Linked DNA regions of Homo sapiens: all the other regions are reported to be linked to region 2. The links are microRNA targets in miRTarBase. Many come from high-throughput screens and were not tested one by one. Region 2 holds a microRNA gene; each other region holds the end of a gene's coding sequence.
What was found. Region 2 holds the annotated microRNA hsa-miR-539-5p (GGAGAAAUUAUCCUUGGUGUGU, at 3,830-3,851, shown strand). A microRNA usually pairs through its seed, bases 2 to 8, with sites in the 3' UTR of a target mRNA and lowers its output. Matches are read on the target gene's strand: a 7mer-m8 pairs with bases 2 to 8, a 7mer-A1 pairs with bases 2 to 7 and ends in A, and an 8mer does both.

Region 1: the mRNA of TXLNA is a reported target of hsa-miR-539-5p. Seed matches in the 3' UTR shown: 7mer-m8 at 658-664 and 7mer-m8 at 2,003-2,009.
Region 3: the mRNA of KDM7A is a reported target of hsa-miR-539-5p. Seed matches in the 3' UTR shown: 8mer at 1,611-1,618, 7mer-A1 at 4,258-4,264 and 7mer-A1 at 4,973-4,979.

What each region holds. Positions count from the first base shown.
Region 1 is chr1:32,194,880-32,199,879 of GRCh38, forward strand. TXLNA (taxilin alpha) reads left to right here. Exons shown (of 11, transcript NM_175852.4): 11 at 23-3,406. The coding sequence ends at 316. It also overlaps a transcript of CCDC28B not described here. Among named protein-coding and RNA genes, the nearest start is that of CCDC28B, 3.2 kb to the right of the region's middle. RefSeq lists enhancers at 4,375-4,933, 4,934-5,000.
Region 2 is chr14:101,043,500-101,048,635 of GRCh38, forward strand. MIR539 (microRNA 539) reads left to right here and starts at 3,822; the gene lies at 3,822-3,899. It overlaps MIR1185-2 (microRNA 1185-2), which reads left to right and starts at 699; the gene lies at 699-784. MIR381HG (MIR381 host gene) reads left to right here and starts at 1,658. Exons shown (of 3, transcript NR_104192.1): 1 at 1,658-1,685. It overlaps MIR381 (microRNA 381), which reads left to right and starts at 2,421; the gene lies at 2,421-2,495. It also overlaps MIR487B and MIR889. RefSeq lists enhancers at 2,266-2,766, 2,767-3,267.
Region 3 is chr7:140,086,894-140,091,893 of GRCh38, reverse strand. It overlaps KDM7A (lysine demethylase 7A), which reads left to right. Exons shown (of 20, transcript NM_030647.2): 19 at 1-90; 20 at 706-5,000. The coding sequence ends at 800. Among named protein-coding and RNA genes, the nearest start is that of PARP12, 26 kb to the right of the region's middle.

The DNA of each region.
Region 1 (5,000 bases), not on the chromosome of region 2:
AAGGTCTCATTTCTTTCCCTAGAAAACAGTCCGGGATAAAGAACTGGAGGGCCTGCAGGTAAAAATCCAACGGCTGGAGAAGCTGTGCCGGGCACTGCAGACAGAGCGCAATGACCTGAACAAGAGGGTACAGGACCTGAGTGCTGGTGGCCAGGGCTCCCTCACTGACAGTGGCCCTGAGAGGAGGCCAGAGGGGCCTGGGGCTCAAGCACCCAGCTCCCCCAGGGTCACAGAAGCGCCTTGCTACCCAGGAGCACCGAGCACAGAAGCATCAGGCCAGACTGGGCCTCAAGAGCCCACCTCCGCCAGGGCCTAGAGAGCCTGGTGTTGGGTCATGCTGGGAAGGGAGCGGCAGCCCAGCCAGGCCTGGCCCATAAAAGGCTCCCATGCTGAGCAGCCCATTGCTGAAGCCAGGATGTTCTGACCTGGCTGGCATCTGGCACTTGCAATTTTGGATTTTGTGGGTCAGTTTTACGTACATAGGGCATTTTGCAAGGCCTTGCAAATGCATTTATACCTGTAAGTGTACAGTGGGCTTGCATTGGGGATGGGGGTGTGTACAGATGAAGTCAGTGGCTTGTCTGTGAGCTGAAGAGTCTTGAGAGGGGCTGTCATCTGTAGCTGCCATCACAGTGAGTTGGCAGAAGTGACTTGAGCATTTCTCTGTCTGATTTGAGGCTCAGACCCCTCCCTGCCCTTCAGAGCTCAAGACAAGTAATACACCCAGGTCTTGACTGCATTTGTCTTGTGAGCAGGGCTTGCTTGGTCAGCTCAGGCCCTCCTAGCTGCTCTGGAGGCTCCTTTGATTCTCTAGACCTGGAAAAGGTGTCCCTAGGCAGAGCCCTGGCAGGGCGCTCAGAGCTGGGGATTTCCTGCCTGGAACAAGGGACCTGGAGAATGTTTTTGCGTGGGATGATGTGCTGGTCAGGAGCCCCTTGGGCATCGCTTCCCCTGCCCTTTGGTAGTGCCAGGACCAGGCCAATGATGCTTCTCAGTAGCCTTATCATTCACAGGTGCCTCTCTAGCCTGCACAAATGATTGACAAGAGATCACCCAAAGGATTATTTCTGAAGGTGTTTTTTTCTTTATTTCTTTTTCTTTTTTTTTTTTTTTCTTTTTCTTTTTTTTTTGCACATGACAGTGTTTGTATTGAGGACCTTCCAAGGAAGAGGGATGCTGTAGCAGTGGTGCCTGGGTGCCTGGCCTCCAGTGTCCCACCTCCTTCACCACCCCACTTGGCTCCTTTGCCATCTTGATGCTGAGGTTTCCTGTTTGGTGAGATCAGGTTGTTTGTGGTAAAAGAAAGGAAAGGGCTTCTGATGGCTTTGCCACAAGCTTACCTGTGGGTTTCAGTCCTGAGAGGCCACCACCAGTTCCCATCAGCACTGTCTCCATGCAGCAGTTGCTGGGTCCCATGTCCAGCTGCCTCTTTGGCTTCATGGGTTTTTCTGCTTCCTGCCCCCACCCCCACATGTGCAATCCTCAAGATTTGTCCTGATTCTATTTCCTGGCACCTCCCTGCCTGTCCTTGGGGATTCTACTTCTTCCTGTGTGGGAGCCCATAGCTGTTGTCTAACAGGTAAGAAATGAAATTGAACTATTGACTGGGCCCCAGAAATCCATAAAATGGCTGCAGACAGTTGTTTCTGTGTCCTGTTCTACCCCCACTCCAGTACATAACTACTATGTACTGTGTAGAGCCATTCTATATGCTGAATGTTCTGCTGTTGCAAACTTGCCAGGGTATTAGCCAGTGTTTGTGCCAAGCAGTTTTCTGGGACAACAGAATGACTCAGACCAAGATGGATAGGATGGTTAGGGCTTTGCTTCTTGCTGTTTTTCTTTGAAGCTAGTTCATTGTCCTGCAGGTCCCTTCATCTTCCATACCTAGCCCACTCTTTTAGCCCTTACCTTAAATCTCTCAGATAAGTTGGTTCACAAAGAATGTTAAGTACTGAATCATGTGTGACTGAGACCAGAGATGGCAAATGAATGGCACACCATTTCTCCTTCTCCTGCCCCAGGGCAGGTACCACTGATCTGCATCAGAGTTGCCTGCTATTCTCTGGTGTATCCTTCACATCTAGGTGCCCTCAAGCAGCTGTGTGAGTGTTGAGATCTCTGCCATCTCTGGCTGAGATACTGCTGTCCTGTGAAGTGTTTCCCATGACCTTTTTCTTCCCCTTTGAATCCCTCTGTCTGGAGTAGTCCTTGCCTCTTCCTGCTCCAGTAGGGCCTTTTCCCTACCCCAGCCCCTGTGCCAGGCTAAGCTGGTACAAGAGCTGCCAACCTCACAGAGTGTTTGCTAGGCGAGAGAGGTGCAGGGAAGAGGCAGAGGTATGCACCTTCCCCCTTGAAGAGAGGGGAAAGGCCTACAGTGGCCCACATAATTGCCTGACTCACACTTCAGCTACCTCTTAATGCCTGTGGAGGGACTGGAGCTGCTGGATCCCAGTGTGGTGGTGTAGGAGGCCACAGTGAGCAGGTGGCCCCAGCTGGGTTTCCCAGGTCAGGAATGTGGGCCCCAGGCAAGGTGCAGCCTTTGCTCACAGCTCCATCCATGTCTAGACCTTCAGGCCAGTCTGCAGATGAGGTTCCCTACCTTTTTCTTCTCTTCATTGACCAAATCAACCAATCACTACAGCTGCTCTGCTTCTGCTTTCCAAAGTAGCCCAGGTCCTGGGCCAGATGCAGGGGAGGTGCCTATCCATGAGTGAAGGCCAGTGTCTTCCTCACCTGGGTGGGTCCCACACTTGTGACCTCAGTTTTAGGACCAAGATCTGTGTTGGTTTCTTAGATTGCTAGCTTTTCCTCCAGGGGACCACAGCAGGTGAAGCTCAAGAGCGCATGGCTCTGCTAATAGTAAATTGTTTTCAGGGCCTTGTCCAGCTGAGAGCTTCATGTCCACCAGATTCTGAGAGGTGTCAGCAGCACTTTTTTTTTTTATTTGTTGTTTGTTTTCCATGAGGTTATCGGACCATGGGCTGAGCTCAGGCACTTTCTGTAGGAGACTGTTATTTCTGTAAAGATGGTTATTTAACCCTCCTCCACCCCATCACGGTGGCCCTGAGGGCTGACCCGGAGGCCAGTGGAGCTGCCTGGTGTCCACGGGGGAGGGCCAAGGCCTGCTGAGCTGATTCTCCAGCTGCTGCCCCAGCCTTTCCGCCTTGCACAGCACAGAGGTGGTCACCCCAGGGACAGCCAGGCACCTGCTCCTCTTGCCCTTCCTGGGGGAAGGGAGCTGCCTTCTGTCCCTGTAACTGCTTTCCTTATGGCCCAGCCCGGCCACTCAGACTTGTTTGAAGCTGCACTGGCAGCTTTTTTGTCTCCTTTGGGTATTCACAACAGCCAGGGACTTGATTTTGATGTATTTTAAACCACATTAAATAAAGAGTCTGTTGCCTTACTTGTTTCTCTCCTGACCTGTGTATTCCTTTGTTTCTGGATCTGATCCATTCAGCCCCTTCCATCATCACTGACTTGTTCAGGTCTGCTGCAGAGCGCCCATGGTGGTTCCCTGGTATCTTACATATTCCACAGTGTCTTTGAGCAGTCGCCACAGCCTCAGGATGCTGGCATATTCACTTGAGCTGCCTGAGTGGAGCCCTTGGCAAAGTTGGCAAGACCCTTGCCTCAGAGAGGATCACACACACACAAAAAAGTTTTCCCTGACCTGGGGGCTCACAGGCTAGTGAAGGGAAAAGGTACTTTTAGCTATAGACAGGTCAATGGTGCTGAGAGCAGAGAGGAGGCCCCTGCCCCCTTCAGCAAGGTGAGGGGGTGATACCTGGAATGGCCTTCTGAACCACAGGGCAGGTAGAAGATGAACGTCATTTAGTGATTAAATGGTACAGCTGGGAAGCAGGTCCATGGGACTGGGAGAGGGGGTGAGGCTGGGCCCAGAGTCTGGGTACCAGGTTAAGGAATGTGGGCTAGATCCAGAGGGCAGGGGGGGCAACTGAAGGTGTTTCAATAGGAAATTGATAGGCTCCAGCAGTAAGGCAAAAGGCATGGAGCCAGGCATAGGCCATTTGAGGCCCAGGTTAAGAGGGGTGGACACTCATCACTGCTATTTGGGTCTGAGCTGTGGGTAGGCTCCTATAGCCCTGGCCTGCCCAAGGGAATTCACAGGGGCCTCTAATTGTATGCATTCCTTAAGGAGAGCACATTCTCTGTTCAGTTTTTACACCCCCCATTTACCCACCTCAAGCATGGGACTCCTATATGGGAGACATGCTGCTGGTGGCCTCACCCAGCACCCTGTTCTCTCTGGGTCCTGGGTTGGTCAGGCACAAAGGATGATATGTGCTGAATGCCCAGGAAATGGCAGAGACAACCCACCTGCCCTTCCCTCCAGGCCTCCACAAATAGATGTGCCCACAATGACTGTGACAGTCCCAGCAGAGCCTCTGACCCTTCTAGCTGGGTCCTGATACATGTTTTCCATGCTGGCCATGTTATTTCTAGTCGCAGATCCTCTGGAGGGTGTGGGGGGGGTGCCGCCCCAACTCTTGGAGATTCCAAGCAAAGCAGCTCTGAGAATAATGAGGTTTCTGACCCCCCAGTGAAGCAGCTGAGGATGGGAACCACAGGGGTGCTCCCTCTGTCAGCAGCATTACCACTGTCTACTCTAGCAGCTCCGGTGGGGAAGGAGAGGGATTTCTGTTGTCCCCAGTCTGGGCCCCTGGTTATTGAAAAAGTTCGGAATTACTCTTTACCCTTGTGGAGTGTTCTGAGTGTTGGAAGTACCCAGGAAGAAGCCCTGAGCAGGTGCCCTCAGGAGCAGTGCCCATGGCTCCCCACATCAGCCAAGAGGCCCAACCCCAGGAAGCCACTCCTGCCCGGGGATGGGGAAGGTGGGCTGGGTGGCTGTGTGCACTGCCCTGGGCCAGCTCACTTGAGCCTGCTGAGCCGCCTGGCCAAACATGAGCCTCTCTCCTGTTGTATCAGATGCTGTTCTGGGGACCTGCGCCAGGAGCCTCTGCCAGGGCTTTAAATAG
Region 2 (5,136 bases):
AGGGAAGCACATGGATGTCAGGTTGTTCTAAGGCAAGTTACTGGTGGAGCTCCCTGAGCCTGCCTGTGCCCTCTGGGACTGTCGCTGGACTCCAATGGCCAGTCCTCGGAGCACATTGTCCAGTGATTGCACCTGAGTGTGCCTTGGGCAGGTGTGTCTGGTCTTCAGGACTCCTTTGTCGCTAGAGTCTGACGCTGGGGCCCTCTTTTTGTTTGTTTCGAGGTAGGTACAGGTGACACATTCTTGGATCTGGTCATCTCTAGGACAACCAGCCTCAGAGGAGAGACATTGTCTCAGCGCTCTCCAGCTCTGAGAATGCCTGCAGATGCCTTCTTCTCTGATAACTCCATGTCTTGCCGGGCTGAGCCCTCACACCCTGTGCCCCTTTGGAGAAAGGTGATGGTTCCATTGTCCATGTAGCTTGTGGGTATTTGAAGCAGGTTCACCCATGCATGCTGAGCACACTGATAGTCATGCCTACCTGTTCCCTTGTTTAGAAGCCAGTCTCGCCTGCAGGGAGTCCTGGATGTGCCACCTTTCGGGGCCAGGCCACAATGTGCAAGGTGCAGGCCCAGCTCCAGGGTCAGCCAGATGAGGCTTGTCACCGGGCCCCTCCCCCTTGGTCTCAGGCCTCGCAGGAGGAGATGTCCACTCCGGCAAAGACCCGGCATGGTCCTCACCTGCTCTTTGAGCCACCCTTTGGTACTTAAAGAGAGGATACCCTTTGTATGTTCACTTGATTAATGGCGAATATACAGGGGGAGACTCTCATTTGCGTATCAAACTGTCGGAGAAGACACTCATACCCTGCTTGTCTCCAGGACAAAGCCTCGGATGTCAGCCCCTCTCAGGTATGGCCTGGCTTCCATGTCCGGGAACGTGAGGTTGGCTGTGACGCTGCCCCTGGGTTCTGCCTTCGCCCTCTATGCTGGTTCTTCCTGTGGACTCCCTGGAAGCAGTGGGAGAGGAGGGACCTTTTTGTGTGCTCCAAGTTTAATGGTGGTTTGCTTTTTTAAGGATAAATCACACATTGATCTGCCTCTTCTTGGTACCAAGTCATACACAGAAGGCTTCCTGTTCCCAGCATCAGCCTTAGAAGGGGGACCTGGATGTTGGATCATTTCAAGGGGAACACAGACAGCAGTGATGGTGGACCACGGAGCACTGGCTCTGTCTATGCTGTTTTCGAGCCTGGTAGGCCAGCCCCAGGAGGGCTTCCTGGAGGTGGTATTGACCTTGGGGAAGGGGCTGAGGTGTGCTCATCAGCGCTTTTTTTTTTTGATGCTTGGGTGTTCATGATCCAGCTCGCAGTCCCCAGGCTGAATCTGTAAGAATGGTTTGCTTCTATTTGTCATTTGTGATTGCCCATGAAGGCAGCGCTGGGGATGAGCCGTGGGAGCTGTCAGCCCCGCACCAGGTGCGTGCATGTGGGAGGTCAGAGGGCGCCTGCTTCTGCCTCGATGTCTGTGCCCCGTCTCTGACTGCTGGCTTTCTGCTCACACCTAGGATGGCTGCCTGAGAATGGGACTCTTGTTCTGTGTTTGTGGAGACACTCCTTGGGCCGTGTGACTGCCGGCTTTTTACACCCCGACTGCCATGGGGGTCATCTGGACCCGAAGCCAGCTTCAGGAAGGACATTCGCAGCATCCTCAGCCCAAGGAAAGCGAACGTCCAGCTGAAGAGAGGTGAGCACCACGCCTGGGTAATGAGTCACATAACCTGCCACCTGGACCAGGCGGCTCCCGCTCCTCTCCCCTTCTTGAAGGAGAGACCACTGTGGGGAATGGGCTGTGGGTCTGCTTCCTCAGTTACTTGGGGGTACGTGGGGTTTACTACTGTTGACCCTGTGCTCTTTCTTAGCATGGCTTCATGGCCACGATGCCAGCCTCTGGCAGGGGTGGGGCAAGGGCTGGCATGGAGAATGACACTGGTGTCAACGGCTCTGTGAGATGGATGAAGGGATGGTGACCACAGGGCCTTTGCTTTGTCTAAGGTGTAAATTCATCCAGTGCCTGGGACCTCGGTGCTGAGTGCATCCTTAGGAAAACTTCCTGGAGAGGTGCCCACACTGGGAAGGAGATGGTGGTCCCACCCCAGGGAATTCCTATAGAAAGTGAGAAGCTGAGCTCTGCGTGTGCCCAGGAAGGCCCGTGGGGTGGATCTCCTTTTCAGGAACAAGTTCTAATCTGGAGTGATGCCTGGAAAAGAGGCTGATTCTGGTGAAGGGGCACTGGCGTCTGCCCCTTCCTGGCCCCTTTGGGATGGAGAGCTGACCTATGGGCACACAGCTGGCAGGTGGTGTTTGCCACCTGGTCTGCTGATCCCGCATCTCCCACCCCCTCCCCCGCCAGGATGAACCCCGGGAGAGGAGGCCGGCCCCGTGAATGATAGTGAGGAACCTGCCCAGTGCTATTGTTTGGTACTTAAAGCGAGGTTGCCCTTTGTATATTCGGTTTATTGACATGGAATATACAAGGGCAAGCTCTCTGTGAGTATCAAACCTTGTCTTGGACCCAGTCCACACTCAGCAAGGGATGCGGTATGTGTGTGCATGACCGTGTGTATCCGTTTTGTGTGTGGCAAATCGTTCACGGGTCCCCACTTCACAGAGAGGACTTCACGGGCACCTGGATGACTTTAGGGAAGGCAGTGGCCTCTGGGACATCCCCTCTCCTGGTGCAGTGTGGGCGGGGCCAAAAGCATGCACGATGTGTGTGGTCTGGGTCCCTGCTTCCTGAGCGGGAAGTCATCAGCCCGGGCCGATGGCTGGGGTGGCGCTCGTGTGGGGTAGTGGCTTTGTGGTCCCTGCTGTTACTCGGTCCGTGAGTGTGCATGTTCTGCTTGGGGTATGTGACCCGGTCCACTAACCCTCAGCATCTAATTCATCCCCAGGACCGCGCCTTGAAGACGTACCAAGTCCACCCAAGGCAGTGGCTTTCTTTTCCGTGCTAACCTTTGGTACTTGGAGAGTGGTTATCCCTGTCCTGTTCGTTTTGCTCATGTCGAATCGTACAGGGTCATCCACTTTTTCAGTATCAAGAGCGCAGACTCTGGAGCTCGATTTCCTGTGTTTGGATCCCACCTCTGACATTTACTAACCGTCCAACCTTGGGCAAGGATCTCATCGTGCTGTGCCCATTGTCTCACATGTCAAAGGGGAATCACATTGGCGTCCATTTCTTGGGGCTGCTGGGGCTGAACGAGTTAAGACTTGTACACGGCTCAGAGCAGAGCCCCGTGGTCGGCACTTCGTAGGTGGTAGCCAGGACCCTTGTGTGCTGTGAAACTATCATTGGTGGTGGTGGTGGTGGTGGTGGTGGTGGTTTTATGACTAAAATCTCTCCATGGGTTTTTGGAACAGTGTCAAAACATGGAAGTCAAGTCCTTCATCGGGTATGGAATGGACTAGGAAGCCCAGAGCATACACGGTGTTTACAATGGGGGCTAGTGATGCTCTTGATGCTTGGCAGCTAAGCCATTCACACAGTGGCTTTTGATACAGAATGCCACATGCAGTGGGGGTCAGCAGGGGTGCCGAGAACATTTGCTCCACTTAAGAGAGACAGTCCCTGGGTTCTTGACCTCGGCCACTATCTACGCTTTGAAGGAGTCTTGAGCGAGGATGCCAAGCTGAGTGAGGATTCTATGGCATCTTGCTTCCCTGGTGCTTAAAGAGAGGTCAAACTTGGTGCATGCATTGTGCATGCCTGTGTGTGCGTGGTGTGTGTGCATGAGCGAGTGTGTGACTGGGTTTGCCACGAAGCAGTCACCATCTAACCTTGAGCCAAAGACCTGGAGGTGGTGGTCCGTGCTGCTGTTTCATACTTGAGGAGAAATTATCCTTGGTGTGTTCGCTTTATTTATGATGAATCATACAAGGACAATTTCTTTTTGAGTATCAAATCTTGCCTCGGCAGACTTCCTGGACGCCATGACAAGTTCTGTAAAGGGATGCACGCATCAGCCCTTCCCAGGGGCTCACGCCTGGGTGGGGATGAGGGCGCATGCAGTTGGTTTGTGGTGGGGACACTTGTGCCCTAACCTCAGAACCCTGGAGGCGGGGCCACGCTTGGCAGGGGGCCACGGGACTCCTTGGTGCTATCAGGGATTTGCATTGGCCATGGGTGTGTGTTGTGGGTGACGCAGCATTCAAGCTACTTATCAAATCCTGCTTCTTGGAGGCACTTCTTGGACATGAAGCAAACCTTAGGGACCGATCATTGGGGCCAGACCCCCTTCCCCTGCCCAAGAGTGTGACTGACCCCCAGGCATGGGCTTGACTCTCAATGTGTGAAGCTGACCTGCTAATCCTCATTGTTTGGACTACCTGAGAAGAACTTTCTGGAAGAGACACCAACTTTGGAGAAGATGCCCAGCTCTTCTTGATGGCACAGTTCTTTGGTGCTTAAAGAATGGCTGTCCGTAGTATGGTCTCTATATTTATGATGATTAATATCGGACAACCATTGTTTTAGTATCCAAATTTGCTTCAGAAGTTTTTGAAAGCACAGTGCTGACTTCAGTGAGGGGACATTGGTGCCTGCCCCACCATGGAGTGTGACTGTGTTGATGATTTATAATGATGAATCCAGTGATCTCAGAATGCAAGCCACCAGTGTGATTTCCTTGGACAAATGCTAGCTTTGGGGTGGAGATGCCATTTAGGGGCTTGGTGCCATATCTTTTTATTGGAAGATGTTCACAATTATTTCATCTCTCTTTCTCTTCTTGTTATTAAATCTTAGCCACGAGGAATTCCTTGGAGAGATGCCGGGGTCAAGCCTCTCTCTAGGTAGATGGTGGACCGGGGAACCTGGGTCCAGCCTCTCCTATCTGTAGCCTTCATTCTGAGTATGAAACACTTCCTGTAGGGAATGCAAACATTAGTAAAAACTCCGTACATTTCCTGTTACTATTACTACTTTTTGGCAGCTCCTAAGCAGCTGCCTGTTGGGTATTTGGATTATTCTTGGTGGACGTGGCATGGCTTCGTGCCTTCCTTGGGAACCACCCCATCTTAGACAGACTCTCATGGAATAAGACGTTGTGGTCGACAGCACCTCTGGGGTGTGTGTGTGTGTGTGTGTGTGTTTGTGTGCGTGTGCATATGAATAGTTGGCTAGAGTAGTGTTTCTC
Region 3 (5,000 bases), not on the chromosome of region 2:
CAGTTGGTGAAACTTCCTTCTCGGTGCCCCTTCACCCCACCAAGAGACCGGCATCAAATCCACCACCTATCAGCAACCAGGCAACAAAAGGTAACTTTCACACATGTATAGAGAAAGTATATTTCTGACTGTATGTGATGGTCATCATGGCAGTTGAGGTGTAGTCTCTGCACTCAAGTTGTTCAACATCTCATGCATAGTAGACAGCATAGTGATGGCAGTATACACAGGCTACTACAGGAACAAAGAAAAAGGATACCCAAGTCAGCTCTGAGGAGCGAGAGACAGATCCTAAAATCAGATGTTCAGGGGTTAGCCAGGCTGAATTGGGGAAAGTGACAGAATAGACAGCTTTGAAGGCAGAGGATTGAGCCTGAGGCAGGGCACAAAGGGGAGAAGCAGGATATGGGGTATTTGTGAAATGGTAGTCAGTTTTGTTGCCTAAGCATAGTGTAATGCAGGATAGGGAAGAGCCCAGGCTGAAGAGCAGGCAGACCAGACTGTGGGAAGCCTTGTGAGTCTTGTGAGGGCCTAGTGTGATGAGGTGGAAGGGTTTTAAACAGCGGAAGTTCAGAAGTATGACTCTGTCCATGCAGAACACCTAAGGGCTTACTTCCCATAAAGAAAGCTCTCCCCGTAGTCTTCCAGGTGCTCTCTTAAGTGTACTTTTCATCATTACTTACACTCCCTTTTGGTGTTTTATAGGTAAACGTCCAAAAAAAGGAATGGCAACAGCCAAACAACGTCTTGGGAAGATCCTTAAGTTGAACAGAAATGGCCATGCACGTTTCTTTGTGTGACAGAGCTGCTGTTGCAGCCATTCTTCCCTTTGGAGACCAGTCTAGGGGTGCAGGAGCCTGGAGCTTCCGCTGTCCCCCTGCCTGGAGCAGTTTGTGTGTATAGTAAGAACACTGCCCGAAGAACAGAATGAACCTGATGCTGCATTTTCACTGTGCCACACCCACTCAGCAATAACCATTTTGGACCTGGTGGGGGAGAGGAAGAAGGAGGGTAGAACCTTAAAAAGAGACCTTGAACTGGAAAGGGTCTCTTGTCAGGGCTTGAATTTTATTTTGTTGTTGGTAGTGTCTTGATGTATTTTCAGTGGTAGGGTAAAGAATTATCAATAATTTATTTAACAGATTTTTTTTTAAAGTTAACAGCTTTTAAATTCTTTTTTTAAAGCTATTTATTTGGAAGATTTCTGGAGAAATATCTCACTAATTTAGATGTAAGAATGTGAAGGTTTTTAAATTATTTTTGATAGTGTGTGTGTTACATGTGGGGAAGGGCCACAGTAACAGTAACTAGTCTGGACTCTTAAATTTGATATTCAGGTTAAAGTCTTAAACAGGGATTTGATGCATTAATTATTTTAAATTAAGATGTATATGAAAATCATTTTATTTTATATATTTCATGTGTTTTTTATAAGCTATTAGCTTCGCTTTTGCTAACATCCAAGGTGCATACTGTTATCCAGGTTGATTACCTTATATCCCACCTTCCCTCTGCACTCCCCATCATTTTGTGATGACCCAGTAAGACTCTTCTCTTTGCAGGGAAACACTTTCGTAGCCAATGTGTAAGAACTCCATGAAAGATCCCTCATTTCTCATTTCGTTTGACATTGTGATTTTCTTCTCAACATTAAAAAAAATAGGCTTTTGCATTTTCATTTCTGCTGATGATATCTGGGTCCCAAAGAGAGCAGCTTTAATATATTTTTCCTACTTGTGGGAAAAGTATTATAAGTTTGGTTAAATTGTCATGTTTATAGTTTTTCCAAGTACATTTGTAACTACAGCAGGCCTTCTTCGTACTGCTGCTGTTGGACAACAGGACTGGCACCTGCTGCAGAGGTTATACCTTATGATACTTTTATGCTCCATACCTGATTTGTTGGGAAATGTTATTTAGGATATTCAAATCTGCATCATAAGCCGTAATATAATAGGATTAATACTACATTAAGTTGTATAGAAGCAAGCATGTTGGAATAGATCTTTTGTGTGTATTTACTTTTTTTATTTCTTAATTTTCTAAAGAATTACTTAAGATATGGATTTGGAGTAAAATGGGTGCTTTTGGCAGTTTCTTCCATCTATCCTAACCTGACCAGTACATATTGAGGTTAAGTATCTGGTTAAACTTTAAGGTATTCATTTATCTCCTTTATGTATGATTTTTACTAAATGCCAGTTTTCATTTGCTTATAGTAGCTTCTATTTTCCCTTTTTTCCATCCATGGCATAAAAATAAGTGATTTCTGGGGGTGGGGCAGAAATGTTCCCAAGTCTGACAATAGAGCATTTTACAAATTCCTACAAAGAAAATATAGGCAAATAGATAAAATTTATTTTTATGGAGAAGAAATATGGCCATATTATGGATTTGTCTTTTTTTTACTCAGCAAGATAGCAGGACTTACCCTTCTCTATTAAGTATCACTTGAATTGCTAAGAAGAAAAAAGTCTGTACCATCATCTTTCATGGTTGCATTCAAATGTATATTTTCAAAGAGAAATACTTCTTGTGTCCCCATTCCAAAATGTCATGGGATAAATATGAAATAGTTTATGAAGTAGCCTTTCTGGTTCAGAGTGACTGGACCAAAGTCTGAATCTTATCTGGGTATCAGGAAAAAGAATTTTTATGGAAATCCTTAGTGTCTATAAACAACCCGTGTAAACCCTGTCTACACTATGCCAAAACCAGTGGAAAGATGGGTAGAGTCATCTTATCTCAGGATGTCAAAAATCTGGGTTTGACTGATTCCCCTACCTTCCCACACAGTATATTCTTGTGATTTTTGCTTTTCTGTAGATCCTGAGTCGGTGTTACAATAGTCATGTTTTTATTTTGGGTTAAGAAATACGAGGTGTAAGAGCTATAATTTCCTTTTCGTGTTATATCATGATCTGGGTTTTCTTTTTTCCTTTACGTTTTTCACAGCTCTTGAGTATTTTCTATTTTTTTCTTTAGTCACAAAAATTAAAATTAAACTTTATTTTTATGAATTAAAATGAAATTTAATTTATTTTTATGAATTAAAATTGTGGCCAGTATCCACTGTGTCCTTAGGCTGAGAAGTACTAATTTGGAGTAGCCCGTGTGTGGAATTCTAAAGTGAAGGTACTGTGGATTCATTTTTAGTAGTTTTAGCCCCTTAATAAGTGGCTAAGTTAGAAAACTTTCAGCGAGGTAATAGAACCACTTGAATAGAATCCATGTGTCTTTTTCTGAATTGGTGAAAATTCGGCCACTGATCCAGTGACTCCTGGTCAAACGTCTTATAACATTACTGGCCATAATGCATCCCTTTATCTCATGGAAATGGCTGAACTTTGTGGTAGCTGCTGCGAGTACCTGGGCTTAACAGTAATAGAGAACCTCATTTATACCATACAGACACAGCAACTTAGGAAGACAGCACTGATAGCATTTAGCTAGTTGTAACCAAATACAAATATGTAAAATTGAGAATTATGATTAACATATGCAACTTTAGTAATAGGAATAGATGATAATTTTCCTGTATTGTTTCAAATAAGTGACTGTTCAGCTGGGATCCATTGGATTATAATTTACAATGTCACATAATATTATGCTTTTCAATATTGATGAGTGATGTAAACAATATAAAGTTGGCAGTTTGTAGTAGTTCAGTATCCTAGAAATACATTGAACTTCATAAGTATCAGTTCATTTTTAAGCATACAGAATTGAAGATTCTGACTGAAATCATAAACTCAGAGGAAACAAGCCCATCTTTATCACTAATTACTTAGCTTGAATACTTTTCTATTTTTAAATAATCCTAATTATTGCCTTTTCAATTATAGTCTACTGTATTTATTTATATGGGATCAACAGGTATTTATCAAACATCTACTGTGTGCCCAGCACTACCTAGTACTGTTGGGGAACATCAATTTGCAGTTGTGGTCTCTGCCCTTGAAGGTATCTTCTCCAGGAAATTAGCAGTATTATTTTCACTTCTAAGCAAACATGAGCAAAAGAGGACCTGTTCATTAAAAAACATGCTGACTTTTTTAGTTTCAACTGAGATATGCCACTGTAGAAGTGAAAGTAATTTCACAATTAAAGAAATGCTTCAACTTGGTAATTAATATGGTCATACAGGGACTTGGTGTAGCATGCAAGGAAGCAGAAGACCTGGGCTTTTGTCGAAGTTCTGCCATTTAGGTATCAGCTGTGTAACCTTGAATAAGTCACTTAACTCTTTCTCTTAGTTTTCTCATTTGTAAATTTGGATTAAAGTGTTTATTATGATAATCAATTAAGAAAATCTCTTAACACTTCATACATACAGAGAACTTATCATTAAGTTAAAACTGGCAATTAATGCACCTTTATATATATTTTTAAATGAAAACTAATACTATTCATGATGTTTATTTTATATCAAATATATGCCCAGGGCATGCTACTTTAAAAATCCGAGGAATCTCCAACAAGGTGCTGGATTAAAATCAGATTTCGTGCTTGAAGTGGAAGAAAAATGAAGTTGTTTATGGATAAGAGAGTGAGAATGTGTATCCTCAAGTACGTTAAGATGATTTAACTGAAAGATGGCTTTAGGTTTTTCTTGAAGAATTAGGAAAGTACCATCCCCACAGATTCAGCATACTCTTCAGGTACTAGATAAAGGTGAAGGAAGTCATGGAATTAAAATGACTTAGCAACTCCCCAGGGAACTTGTGGGGAGAATGAGGTGGTTAGAAAGGTGAGAATGCACAAAGACAGCTCTGGGTTGGGTACCAACAGTTTGCTTGGTAGAAAGAAACCAGTGTAGGAAAGGAGACGCCACCAGACATCTTCAACAGACAAGATTCTTTCTGCCTTTTTCAAAAGATGCTCTCTGCAGCAGTAAGACTATAGATAGAGTTGATTGGAATATCATGTGACCCAGTATGCTACTGCTAGGCATAATTATCAAAAATTCATTTTTCTCATTAAATATTGTTAATTGCTCG